Homo sapiens: one gene and its partner. The protein of the gene in region 1 interacts with the protein of each later gene in a biochemical or structural test. Each region holds a gene or a part of one and is shown in the gene's direction. Other genes may lie near its edges.

Region 1 (7,026 bases):
CAGACTCAGCGCCCGGGGAAGCTGCCACGCTCGAGTGGCGTGTCCCTCCACAGGTTTTACACTTAGTGAAACTGGATGTTTTACACTTAGAGTCTATTTTGAGAGACGAGAGCTCTTTGTATCTTCCTGTTGCTCTTTTTGAAGAAGGTGCTTCCATGTCAGCAAAAACCATCCTCGGCCCTCCACATGACTTTATTTGACGCCCCCAGCTTCCCGACCCCGCCTCTATGTGGTCGGCAGCTTTGGTTTTTCCATCCCACACAAGCAGCGGGGGTCCTGGCCACCCCTCCGGGTGTCCATCTGTGGCAGTCTTGGTTCCCTGGAGTGGTCCCCCGGTGGGGCGGGCCTGACACCATCTCTCCTCCTGCAGATCAGCATTGTGGAGCTAGAGAAGAGCCAGCGGCAGCAGGAGCTCCTGCAGCTCAAGTCCTGTGTGCCGCCTGACGACGCCCTGTCCCTGCACCTGCGTGGGAAGGGCGCCCTGGGCCGCGAGCTGGAGCCTGACGCCAGCCGGCTGCACCTGGAGCTGGACTGCACCAAGTTCTCGCTGCCTCACTTGAGCAGCATGAGCCCGGAGCTCTCCATGAACGGCCAGGCTGCTGGCTATGAGCTCTGCGGTGTGCTGAGCCGGCCTTCGTCGAAGCAGAACACGCCCCAGTACCTGGCCTCACCCCTGGACCAGGAGGTGGTGCCCTGTACCCCTAGCCACGTCGGCCGGCCGCGCCTGGAGAAGCTGTCTGGCCTAGCCGCACCCGACTACACTAGGCTGTCCCCGGCCAAGATTGTGCTGAGGCGGCACCTGAGCCAGGACCACACGGTGCCCGGCAGGCCGGCTGCCAGTGAGCTGCATTCGAGGTGAGTGCCCTGGTGGGGCTGGGGGTCTGCAGCTGGTACCTGCCGACTCTGCCTGGTGTGCTCAGGCTGTCGGGTTCTCAGCAGGAGTGTGTTTGTTGAGGAGACTGAGGTGGGGAGGTGCTGGGCCAGGCCGCTGCCTCTGAGTGCCAGCCCACGGCCCTCGAGAGTGACTGCAGCTTCTCATTCCAGAGCTGAGCACACCAAGGAGAACGGCCTTCCCTACCAGAGCCCCAGCGTGCCTGGCAGCATGAAGCTGAGCCCTCAGGACCCGCGGCCCCTGTCCCCTGGGGCCTTGCAGCTTGCTGGAGAGAAGAGCAGTGAGAAGGTGCGGGCCGCGACCCCTGCCCCGGGCTCAGGGAGGTGCTCAGCAGAGGCGGCCTGAGCGAGTTGCTAGCAGGAGGGCTTGTCCTAGTTGACCTTGGGGCACGGTGAGGTACTGGGGCTGACCTGGAGTAGGATGTTGTGGCAGAGTTGGGGGCAACCAGTAAGGACAGGTCACAGGTGACGTTGGGCAGGTGCCATGGAGGACATGGGGTTTGTCAGGGTGTCCCTGATGCCTCTTAGTTCTCAGTGACGGACGGCAAGTGCTGGTAGAGACACAGAGCCCAGTTTGGGAGGCCGCTGCCCATGAGGACTTCCCCGGGGGCACTGGCCTGTGTGCACAGGGATGGAGAGGGAAGGACGGTGACGTTGCATGGACTTGGCAGTGATGGATGTGGGCCCTGGGAGGCTTGGTGGCCCCACGGGTGACTGCCCACCGAGCCGGGCGGGCAGGCTGGAGGGGACAGATGGGCATTGCTTTCAGACACCAGGAGCGTGCCGTCCCTCTGGAGTGTCCCAAAGCCGGTGTCCAGGAGGGCCTGACTGCGTGGGGAAGGTTGCAGGGCCTTGGCAGCGTGGGGGCCGCCTTGAGAGAGCTGTAGCAGGCCCCCGTCCTGTGGCTGTGGTCCCTGTGTCCTGGAGGGGTTTGTTGACCCACGACTGGGGGTCGGGCCTTCGTCTGCAGGGCCTGAGAGAGCGCGCCTACGGCAGCAGCGGGGAGCTCATCACCAGCCTGCCCATCAGCATCCCGCTCAGCACCGTGCAGCCCAACAAGCTCCCGGTCAGCATTCCCCTGGCCAGCGTGGTGCTGCCCAGCCGCGCCGAGAGGGCGGTGAGTGGCTCCCAGGTGGCTGTCCCCAAGGGCCACGTTGAGGCAAAACAGTCTGGGGTGCTCGAGACCTGGCTCACTTTGCGAAGTCTCACGCTGTAAAATGTCGAGCGTGAGGCAATGCAGTCAAGGTGGGCTGTCCAAAGCCGGGGCGTGTCCGGTGACCTGGGCCGTTGTTTTCGCCAGTCTTTTTCTTTTGGGTGAAAGGTACGTGTGCAAGTGGAGAGGGCCTCACACCTTCTGGGTTGAGGAGGAGCTCAGAGGCCCACCCTGGCTCCCAGCCTCACTCCTCACGAGGCCACATTGGCTGCCGTGGCCCCTGTCCTCACAGCTGCCTCTGGGTTCTCCCACCCAGCGCTGTGCATGCAGAGAATCTCGTCTTGTGTAGCATGGGCGGGATTTTCTGGGCATTGAACTATTTTTTAAAAATTGTGCGCTTCAAGTATATGCTTCAGTGGTTTTTAGCATTTATTTTTTATTTTTTATTTTTATTTTTCAGACGGAGTCTCACTCTGTCGCCCAGGCTGGAGTGCAGTGGTGCGATCTCGGCTCACTGCAAGCTCCACCTCCCGGGTTCACGCCATTCTCCTGCCTCAGCCTCCCGAGTAGCTGGGACTACAGGCGCCCGCCACCACGCCTGGCTAATTTTTTGTATTTTTAGTAGAGATGGGGTTTCACCGTGTTAGCCAGGATGGTCTTGATCTCCTGACCTAGTGATCCGCCCGCCTGGGCCTCCCAAAGTGCTGGGATTACAGGCGTGAGCCACGACGTCTGGCCTCTTTCTTTTTTTTTATTTTTCGAGATGGAGACTCATTCTGTCCCCCAGGCTGGAGTGCAATTGTGTGATCTCGGCTCACTGCAATCTCTGCCTCCCAGGTTCATGCCATTCTCCTGCCTCAGCCTCCCGAGTAGCTGGGATTACAGGTGCCCACCACCACGCCCGGTTAATCCCCGCCCCCACCAGCTGAGACGGAGTCTTGCTCTGTTGCCCAGGCTGGAGGGCAGTGGCACGATCTTGTGATCTTTACTCACTGCAGCCTCCGCCTGCTGGGTTCAAGCAGTTCTCCTGCCTCAGCCTCCCGAGTAGCTGGGATTACAGGCATGCACCACTATGCCCAGCTGATTTTTGTATTTTTAGTAGAGACAGGGTTTCACCATCTTGGCCGAGCTGGTCTCAAACTCCTGACCTCAGGTGATCTGCCCACCTCAGCCTCCGAAATTGATGGGATGACAGGCATGAGCCACCGCACCCGGCCAATTTTTGTATTTTTAATAGAGGTGGAGGTTTTGCCCTGTTGGCCAGGGTGGTCTCGAACTCCTGGCCTCAGTCGACCCACCCGCCTCGGCCTCCCACAGTGCTGGGATTCCAAGTGTCAGCCCCCGTGCCCGGCCGGTTTTTTGTACTTTTATACACCTCTGTCTAATTCAGGACATTTTCTTCACCCGGGAAAAAGCGTTGCCCGCCTCAGCAGTCACTCCCTAGTCGTCCCCCAGCCCCCGGGCCCCCGAACACGCTCATGTCTGGGCCTGTCCCTTCTCTTGGCACGTGAGGGCATTCCCTGTGTGGATGGAGTGTGCCATCTTCATCCGTGCCCAGTTGATGGACCCCGGCTTGATTCCCTGTTTTGGCGATTGTGAATCGTTCTGCTGTGAGCGCTGGGGTCCAGGTTTCTGTGTGGATGTAGGTTTGCTCTTTGGCCCATGTGGGAGTGGAGCTACTGGGTTCTGCGGTCACTCTACTGACCTTTGTTGGACTTGGAGTGTGGTGTGGGGAAGTGCAGTGGGTGGTGGCCGGCAGGTGTGTTCTCGCAAGCGCCCTCCTCACCCCACCCGACTGCTGGCATTTGTGCTGCTTGGAGAACACAGCCGCTTCCCGGTGAGGGCGGGCTGTGGGTTGCTTGGGTTGTGCCCAGTACCCCCTCCCCACAGCTGGACCCCGGGACCCCCGCCTCCTGACCTCCCTGCCTCAGGCCCGCTGCCCATTCACACGCAGGCACCGCGCACTCTCGCTGCGCCACTCGCCTGGGGCCCCGCTCAAGTTCCCCCGCTGCCCTCTTCCCACGCGGTACTGGACGGTGACCCCGGCGGCCTCCCCCAGCCAGCTGCAGGCCTCAACACTCACTGTTTCCAGCTGGGTTCTGGGTCTCCTGGGGCACCTGCTGCCCCTGACACACAGGGTTTTCTCTCTGCAGAGGAGCACCCCCAGTCCCGTGCTGCAGCCCCGTGACCCCTCGTCCACACTTGAAAAGCAGATTGGTGCTAATGCCCACGGTGCTGGGAGCAGAAGCCTTGCCCTGGCCCCCGCAGGTAACGCCCCTCCTGTGCCCTACCCTCAGGACTCTGCTGCTGCTGCTGCTCTTCAGGCAGGAGGGCTGGGTTGCTGGGAGTGGAACAGGGCTTCCTGGGGTGATCATGGGGGCTGCTGCCCCAAACCGCCACGCCTCATTACTGACACCCTTTCCTGCATCCCACGAGCTGGGATGCGGATCGGGCTCAGCTGCAGCCATCTCGGCCTCATACCTGGGTCTCCCGACACTGACACCTCCTGCTTGGGTGTATTAATTCAGCCCGTGAGGTCGGCCCCAGTGCTCTCGGGGGCTCCTGTACTCACAGCTGGGAGGCCCCTGACTCAGGATCGGCTCCACACACAGCAGTGCCCAATGGCACACGACCGTGGGCCTCCGTGCTGGTAGCGGCATGGTTTCTGGTTCCTTGAGAAGGTGCCGCCTGAGCAGTCTCTGCTGTTAGCCCAGTTTCTGCAGAGAGCCAGAGAGGATGCCACTTTGGCTTTTGTTGACACTGCAGGCCTGTCTGTTGTGGAAGCCGCAGAGACAGCATGTCAGCGGGCATGGCTGTGTGCCAGCAAAACTGTACTTAAAACAGCAGAGGACATGAGACCCCCAGGCTGGTTTGCTGGCCCCAGGTTGAGATGCGGTATGATGCGGCAGCTACTTTTTTAGGAGTAAAAAGTAAAATGTGGCCGGGCGTGGTGGCTCATGCCTGTAATCCCAGCACCTTGGGATGCCGAGGTGGGCGGATCACCTGAGGACAGGAGTTTGAGACCAGCCTGGCCAACATGGTGAAACCACCGTCTGTACTAAAAATACAAAAATTAGCCGGATGTGGTGGCAGACGCCTGTAATCCCAGCCACTCGAGAGGCTGAGGCAGGAGAATCGTTTGATCCTGGGAGGTGGAGGTTGCAGTGAGCTGAGATCGCACCACTGCACTCCCGCCTGGGCAAAAAGAGTAAAACTCCATCTCAAAAACAAAACAACAACAAAACAAGTAAAATGTACATGGCCGCTATTGAGACAGGAGGGGCTCTAGGGAGGCTGGGCAGGCTTCACGGTTGGCCACGTGAGGGCCCTGGAGAGGCCACCGAAGCCCGGGCAGTTCTGCCCTCGCAGGGCTGGGTTGTGCCCTTGGGGTGAGGTCTGCTCTGCGAGAGGCAGTGACAGTTTCAGGAGATTTTCAACTGGGTGGCAAACAGCCAACTCCAGAAGCGCCTTGCTGCGCCCCTGCACTGAGGCCTCATTGGCAGAAGCAGGGAGGCCGCCCTTTGTCCCCGGGTGGTCATGGAAGTGCACCACTCATCGTGGGCTGGGAAGCATGGCTGCGGCCTTCAAGGCGGCCATAGCTTGGAGTATCCAAGCTGAGTTGTCTTCTGAGAACAGGAGGGAGGGAGGCCACGCAGCCATGGGCTTTCCTCATGGTGTCTCTGAGATCACGGGGCCAGAGGGCAACTTACTCAGAGGAAGCCTAGCTCAGCGGGGAGCCCGCACCAGGAGGCTTCTTGGGAGGCAGCGTCTCAGCCGGGACCTGCAGGGCACAGGCAGCCCAGATGGGCGGGAGGAGGCACAGGGTCAGCCCTGAGCCTTGAGCTTGCCCACAGAGCCTTCTGGTTCCACCCCAGAGGGGCCGTTTTCAGACTCCCAACCCCTTCCCCACTTCCCCGCCTCTCCTGGAGCCCACAGAGCTCCTAGGGGGTGGTGCTCCCACAGCAAGGCTTTCTCTTTGGCCATCCTGTGTCCCCTGAGACCCCCATGTCCTTCCCGGCAGGCTTCTCCTACGCTGGCTCGGTGGCCATCAGCGGGGCCTTGGCGGGCAGCCCGGCCTCTCTCACACCTGGAGCCGAGCCGGCCACCTTGGATGAGTCCTCCAGCTCTGGGAGCCTTTTTGCCACCGTGGGGTCCCGCAGCTCCACGCCACAGCACCCCCTGCTGCTGGCACAGCCCCGGAACTCGCTTCCTGCCTCTCCCGCCCACCAGCTCTCCTCCAGTCCCCGGCTTGGTGGGGCCGCCCAGGGCCCGTTGCCCGAGGCCAGCAAGGGAGACCTGCCCTCCGATTCCGGCTTCTCAGATCCTGAGAGTGAAGCCAAGAGGAGGATTGTGTTCACCATCACCACTGGTGCGGGCAGTGCCAAGCAGTCGCCCTCCAGCAAGCACAGCCCCCTGACCGCCAGCGCCCGTGGGGACTGTGTGCCGAGCCACGGGCAGGACAGTCGCAGGCGCGGCCGGCGGAAGCGAGCATCTGCGGGGACGCCCAGCTTGAGCGCAGGCGTGTCCCCCAAGCGCCGAGCCCTGCCGTCCGTCGCTGGCCTTTTCACACAGCCTTCGGGGTCTCCCCTCAACCTCAACTCCATGGTAAGGATGGGGACCGGCAGGGCTGGGGAGCGCGGCCTGTGAAAGAAAGACCAGAGGGAGACCGGGCGCGGTGGCTCACGCCTGTAATCCCAGCATTTTGGGAGGCCGAGGCGGGTGGATCACAAGATCAGGACATCAAGACCATCCTGGCTAACACGGTGAAACCCCGTCTCTACCAAAAATACAAAAGATTAGCCGGGCGTGGTGGCGGGTGCCTGGGAGGCTGAGGCAGGAGAATGATGTGAACCCGGGAGGCGGGGCTTGCAGTGAACTGAGATCGGCCACTGCCTGGGCCACAGAGCGAGACTCCCTCTCGGGGGGACAAAAAAAAACACAAAAAAAAACAGGTGGAGGCAGGGGGCCATGACTGAGCCCGG
Region 2 (7,026 bases), on another chromosome or scaffold:
CGTGATGCCTCCGGGTTCGTGCATGGCCACTTGTGCTGCGTGAGCGTCGTAGGTTTAGGGGAACAGAAGTAGAGGGATTTACATGAGCTTTTAAAATCCCAAATAGACTGGCCAGGTGCGGTGGCTCACACCTGTAATCCCAGCACTTTGGGAGGCCAAGGCGGGTGGATCCCCTGAGGCCAGGAGTTCAAGACGAACCTGACCAACATGATGAAACCCCGCCTCTACTAAATACAAAAAAAAAATCAGCCGGGCATGGTGGTGCATGCCTGTAGTCCCAGCTACTTGGGAGGCTGAGGCAGGAGAATGGCTTGAACCCGGAAGGTGGAGGTTGCAGTGAACCAAGATTGCACCATTGCACTCCAGCCTGGGCAACAAGAGCAAAACTCTGTCTGAAAAAAAAAAAAAAAAAAAAAAAAAAAAAAAAATCCCAAATAGACTAAAAGGGAAAATCCTACCCCAGTCAAGACCCCGCACAATCATAATTGAGTTATACCGTGGAAAACACTTTGAGCATCCATGAGACGGTCTTACTGTTTTTTTTATTTTTCTCAATGTTCTAACATATGTGAAATTTAATTGATTTTTCCATGATAAGTGTTTTTGAAGTTGTTATATGTTAGACATCCAGTTTGGAAAAATCATCTTAATATTTAGGCTTTCCGGTTAGCTTAGTATGCCTGGATTTGCCAGGGCTGCAGAATTAATGTAGACTTAAAGGAAGAGAATGTCTTTCAGTTGAAGTACTATAAATAGCAAAGGCAGGCAGGCATAATTTTAAAGTTATGAAACTCCTTAGTGCCAGATTATTGGAGAAGAATAACATCTGCTAAAGCTAATTAAAGTTTAATATGTTTAATAAATGTGATTGTTACAGACAAAAAATCATTAAAGTGCTGTAGAAAATTGTTAAGTTACCATCAGGCCACATAATAAATTAATGATTTTTCTCACTCTGAATTAATGCAAATTCCCGTTGTACTGTATTTAATTATGCACAAAATGGTGCCCTTGACTCAGATTTCAGTGAAGAACTTCATTTTTTTACTTTTAAGTCTCCAAGTAGGAAATTCAATTAGCGTTATGAAAGAAACACTAAAATGTGGCATTTAATTGCAAAATATATTTTAAGCTTTTCATTTATCCAGTGACTTTGCCAGCAGTCACTGACCCCTTCATTCAGAGATCCTTTTCTGTTTCAAAAATGCAATGCTTCCTTTTTAGTATATTCAAGCATTTGTGAAAATTATTGCCCTCATGTACTCAGAATGCTGAATAATAAGTGTAATAAATGTTATTTCTGGTTCTCCTTTGGTTCTCATTCTAACATTTTTATGAGAGATTTAAAGGAGCAAATAAACTATAATTAGAAAAAAAAAGACAATGGATTTTAGCACATATTATATGCCACATATATATTTTTTAATGAAGTTTACATTTAACAGTAAAGAGACCTACAAAGATCAGTAATAAGAATCATGTAAGTCTCTTCATAGGCTTTTTTTTTTTTTTTTTTTTTTTTTTTGAGATAGAGTTTCGCTCCTGTTGCCCAGGCTGGAGTACAATGGCCCATCTCAGCTCGCTGCAACCTCTGCCTCCTGGGTTCAAGTGATTCTCCTGCCGCAGCCTCCCGAGTAGGTGGGATTACAGGCACCTACCACCACCCCCAGCTAATTTTTTTGCATTTTTAGTAGAGGCAGGATTTCACCATGTTGGCCAGGCTGGTCTCGAACTCCTGACCTCCGGTGATCCACCCACCTCAGCCTCCCAAAGTGCTGGGATTACAGGCATGAGCCACCGCGCCCATCCTCTTCATAGCATTTTGTGGGCTGTGCTCTTACTAGTTTTACCCTTAACATAAATTATATGCTAAACTCAACATATAATTGAAACAAAATCCAACTGAAATGTGGGTGTGGCCAGTTGGGTGCCTGTTGTGCTTTGTGACAGCTTCAGTGCTTCCAAAGGTTCCTGCAGAATGGGACATTGCTCTAGTTTGATTCACATTTGACTACAATGGTTAGAAGGTAATTACCTTTTCTATTTTTTAAATTTTTTTGAACATAAACTCAAGATTGTATTGTCTTCATAATAAAACAAAAGATGACACTTAGAATTGGATGTCTTGGCCCTTCCTCCTCTTCTGTCCTCCCAGTTCAGAATGCTCACATCTCTTTATATCCAGCATCCTCTTACATCTGCACCTATGCTCAACGCACTCAAGCCTCAGCACAAGCTTCTTCGTAGTTCTAGCCTTTTCCCGGAAAATCAGCTTAGTCTGCCCACCGTAGCCGCTATGCTTCGTGTCCTAACACCACCTTCCCCGGGCACCTGTCCTAACGCCACCTTCCCAGGCACCTGTCGTAACGCCACCTTCCCCGGGCGCCTGTCCTAACGCCACCTTCCCGGGCATACAGAGAATCCGTGCCCTTTTGTGCCGTGTCGCTTTGTGGGCTTGCCACACTTACAGAAAGTCGAACGGGGGCCGGGTGTGGTGGCTCACGCACTTTGGGAGGCTGAGGCGGGCGGATCACCTGAGTTCAGGAGTTCTCGACCAGCCTGGCCAACATGGCGAAACCCCATCTCTACTAAAAATACAAAAATTAGCTAGGTGTGATGATGGGCACATATAGTCCCAGCTACTCGGGAGGTTGAGGCAAGAGAATTGCTTGAACCTGGGAGGCAGAGGTTGCAGTGAGCCGAGATTGTGCCATTGTACACCAGCCTTGTTGAGAGAGCAAGACGCCAACTCAAAAAAAAAAAAAAAAGTCTAGCAAGTATTAGGAACATTCACTTTGTGGGAGCGCTGTTGGCACCGAAAGCACTTTTTTTATATTGGATTTTTTTTTTTTTTTTTTACCTTTCAGTAAAAGTAATGTTTTCATTATAGAAAATTGGAAATTGTGATCAAGTATAAGAAACCTATATTTCCTCCCATTCTAACCATTATTTTTTTATGTTTCCTTCCTTTAATTAGTATGTGTTTTATCTACCTACATGAGTGTGTGTTAATGTAGATATGCATAATTTTTTCTGTTTTTGGTAGAGGTAGGGTCTTGCTCTGTTGCCCAGGCTGTCAGAAACTCCTGGCCTTGAGTGATCTCCCACACCAGCCTCCCAAAGCACTGGTACTACAGGTGTGAGCCAACATGCTCGGCCTGTTACACACACACACACCTGGTATTACAGGTGTGAGCCAACATGCTCAGCCTGTTACGTGCACACACACACACCTGGTATTACAGGTGTGAGCCAACATGTTCGGCCTGTTAAGCACAGAGACACACACCTGGTATTACAGGGGTGCGCCAACATGCTCGGCCTGTTACACACACACACACACACACCTGGTACTACAGGTGTAAGCCAACATGCTTGGCCTGTTACACACACACACACACACACACCTGGTATTACAGGTGTGAGCCAACATGCTCGGCCTGTTACACACACACACCTGGTACTACAGGTGTGAGTCAACATGCTCGGCCTGTTACACACACACACACACACCTGGTACTACAGGTGTGAGCCAACATGCTCGGCCTGTTACACACACACACACACCTGGTACTACAGGTGTGCGCCAACATGCTCGGCCTGTTACACACACACACACACACCTGGTATTACAGGTGTGAGCCAACATGCTCAGCCTGTTACACACACACAAACATATATATTTTTAAGACAGAGTTTCACTCTTATTGCCCAGGCTGGAGTGCAATGCGTGATCTCGTCTCACTGCAGCCTGCAACCTCTGCCTCCTGCCTCAGCCTCCCGAGTAATTGGAATTATTACAGGCATGCACCACTACAGCCGGCTAATTTTTTATTTTTAGTAGAGATGGGGTTTCGCCATGTTGGTCAGGCTGGTCTCAGAAATCCTGACCTCAGGTGATCCACCCGTTGTGGCCTCCCAAAATGCTGGGATTACAGTCATGAGCCACTGCTCCTGGTCACGTAATTTTTAAATATAATTTTAGCTGTATCTTGTGTTCAGTTTTCTAGGCTACCTTTTTCACTCAACATTACATCAGGATCATTTTTCCTCATGTTATTCTTTGAGATATTTTTAATGGGCTTGTAGTGTCCCATCATGTGATTTACCAGTTTACTTTCTGTTTTTTAGTTGTTTACAGCTCTTCCTTCGTTGTGATGCTGTGAACCTCTTGTGCATAAATTATCATGTGCATCTCTAATTATTTCTTAGAGTACAGTCCCAGGAGTTGTGAATGTGGGTGAAGCCCCTGCTCCTGCTGCCAGGCCCACCTCTCAGAGAGTTTCGTGTACACGTGTGCAGGGAAGGGCTGACCTAGCTAGGTCTCTGAAACCCGTGCCAGATACTAAATCTGCACAGGCTGCGACAGTGAGCAGACTGAGGGCGATCTGTGCCTTATTGTCTTCCTGTTGGAAGAGAACACATAAATCACGTATCTCAAATGTGAGGCAAATAGCTAATGGTGTTTGTGTATACGAGGAAGGTGGAGTCACCGGTTCTTCGTGGCCATCAGAGGACCGACACGCCCATAGGTCTCATGCATTAAGTCTGCGTTGAGCAATCCCTAACACGGTTTTTGCCTACAGATACATTTGCACAACTGTGAAAACCAGGTACGTATTCATTGCATCATTTTTTGTAAAAAGCTGAGAGAAGTGCCCAGCAACACGTCGTGCCGCGCGTGTGCATGGAACACCATATAGCCTCACCATTAATAGGCAAGATGAGCGAGACCCATTATCAGATGAGAAAAGCACGGCACGGAATACTGTGTCCAATGTGCTCACCGTCTCAATTTTAAACCTAAAGGAGGGAGAACATTTTCTCATGCGTGCATTTCATCTCTGGGAGCACTTAAGACGCTGAAGCGTTGGTTGCCAGTGGGAATGGGAACTGGGTATCTGTGATACAGGGATGAGAATTTTCACACTGTACCTTTAAATACCAGAACGTCATGAACACATCTGAAAAACAATATTCAAATTTCCCTGATCATCTTTCTTTTTTGTTAACAATTATTTAAATTCTGGCACAAGCAAGCCACTTTTCATCATGCATTTGGTCTATAGATGTTCTACCTCCCTCAATTTCGTCTTGTAATTTAATGAATAGGGGAACTGGGGCCGGGCACGGTGGCTCACGCCTGTAATCCCAGCACTTTGGGAGGCTGAGGCGGGTGGATCACGAGGTCAGGAGATCGAGATCATCCTGGCTAACATGGTGAAACCCCGTCTCTACTAAAAATACAAAAAATTAGCCGGGCGTGGTGGCGGGAGCCTGTAGTCCAAGCTATGCGGGAGGCTGAGGCAGGAGAATGGCGTGAACCCGGGAGGCGGATGTTGCAGTAAGCCGAGATTGCACCACTGCACTCCAGCCTGGGTGACAGAGCAAGACTCCGTCTCAAAAAAATAAATAAATAAAAATAATAGGGTAACTGGGTTGCTTCTTTGTATCTCTTGAAAACTGATAGAGGTCTCATCAGATTCTAAATTTGAATTTTTCTTTTTTTGGCAATAACATCACATAGGTAATGTCGTATGCTTCCCATTCCCTTAATCATCGTGGAGATCCACTTCTCGTGAGTCATCTCCCCACAATGCTGGGATCGATCTCTGCGTCAGAATTCCTCTTGATTTTAGTGGTCACTTATCACTGCCTAGATCCATTGTTTAATGTGCTTCTAAAACAGCCGTGTTCTAATTACATAATTGTATAATTTATTAGCTGGAATTTTCTATTTAAAAACAGCTTTGTTTCTTCTCACCAATGATTTGGTTAACCCGAGTAATAGCTTGTACAGGAAAGATAGAATAAATCTTGATCCTTTTTAAAAAATTTTTATAGACAGGGTCTCACTGTGTGTTGCCCAGGCTGGAGTGCAGTGGTGTGATCATACCTCACTAACCTCGACCTCCTGGGCTCAAGACATCTTTTCACCTCAGCCTCCCAAGTAGCTGGGAGTATAGGGGCAGACCACCACACCTGGCTAATTGTTTTGATTTTTATTTTTAGTGGAAATGAGGTCTCGTTATGTTGCCCAGGCTGGTCTCGAACTCCTAAGCTCAAGCCATCCCCCAGCTAGGCCTCCCAAAGTGCTGGGACTACAGGTGTGAGCTATGCGCCTGGCCTGGAATGTTATTTATCCCTTTTTATGCCTGAAGCACAGTGCATAATCTTTTATGTAAGTTAGAACTAAGCCATCAATGTAATTTTTTAAAAAAGCAAATGTGGGCCAGGCACGGTGGCTCACGCCTGTAATCCCAGCACTTTGGGAGGCAGAGGTGGGCAGATCACAAAGTCAGGAGTTCAAGACCATCCTGGCCAACGTGGTGAAACCCCTTATCTAGGAAAAATCCAAAAATTAGCCAGGCATGGTGGCAGGCACCTGTAATCCCAGCTACTTGGGAGACTGAGGCAGGAGAATCGCTTGAACCTGGGAGGCAGAGGTTGCAGTGAGCTGAGATGGCGCCATTGCCCTCCAGCCTGGGCGACAGAGCTAGACTCCATCTCAAAGAAAACAAACAACAACAACAAAGCAAATGTGGTTTCGGGAAAATGTGACTGCAATGGTAACTTTACTGATTGGAGCAGGCACATTTTGTGTACTTTGTATTAAAACTCATGTAATGCCATGCTTGTTACAGTGACATCTTGCACACATGCTGTTTTTCAGGAGTTGTATCCCGCATTTTGTATTCACAACGGAGGCTCCGACCTTGAGCGGCTCCCCACAGCCAGCACCTGCATGAACCTGCTGAAGCTCCCCGAGTTCTATGACGAGACACTTTTGCGAAGTAAACTTCTCTATGCGATTGAATGTGCCGCTGGCTTTGAGCTGAGCTGAAGCTGATGCTGGGGTCAGACCCCTACAGAGAACCAGTGCTTCCTTCGTCAGCAGCGCCTCCCCAGACCCACGAGGATACTCACACTGCACGCCTGAGGCTCTCCTAAGCTCCTTCTTTCATTCTGCCATTCCTCCCTCCCTTCCTTTTTTAAATGATTTTTATTACGGTGTGGTCACTTATT

What was found. Proteins that work in one complex are often made in the same cells at the same time.
Region 2: of the proteins of DOT1L (region 1) and UBE3C, one has a biochemical effect on the other in vitro, tested with the Homo sapiens proteins (one study listed by BioGRID).

What each region holds. Positions count from the first base shown.
Region 1 is NC_000019.10:2,215,911-2,222,936, forward strand, and holds part of DOT1L (histone-lysine N-methyltransferase, H3 lysine-79 specific), read left to right. Parts: intron 1-370; coding exon 371-855; intron 856-1,044; coding exon 1,045-1,180; intron 1,181-1,861; coding exon 1,862-2,008; intron 2,009-4,197; coding exon 4,198-4,312; intron 4,313-6,065; coding exon 6,066-6,649; intron 6,650-7,026. UniProt on the Homo sapiens protein: Histone methyltransferase. Methylates 'Lys-79' of histone H3. Nucleosomes are preferred as substrate compared to free histones. Binds to DNA.
Region 2 is NC_000007.14:157,260,912-157,267,937, forward strand, and holds part of UBE3C (ubiquitin-protein ligase E3C), read left to right. Parts: intron 1-6,673; coding exon 6,674-6,844; 3' UTR 6,845-7,026. UniProt on the Homo sapiens protein: E3 ubiquitin-protein ligase that specifically catalyzes 'Lys-29'- and 'Lys-48'-linked polyubiquitin chains.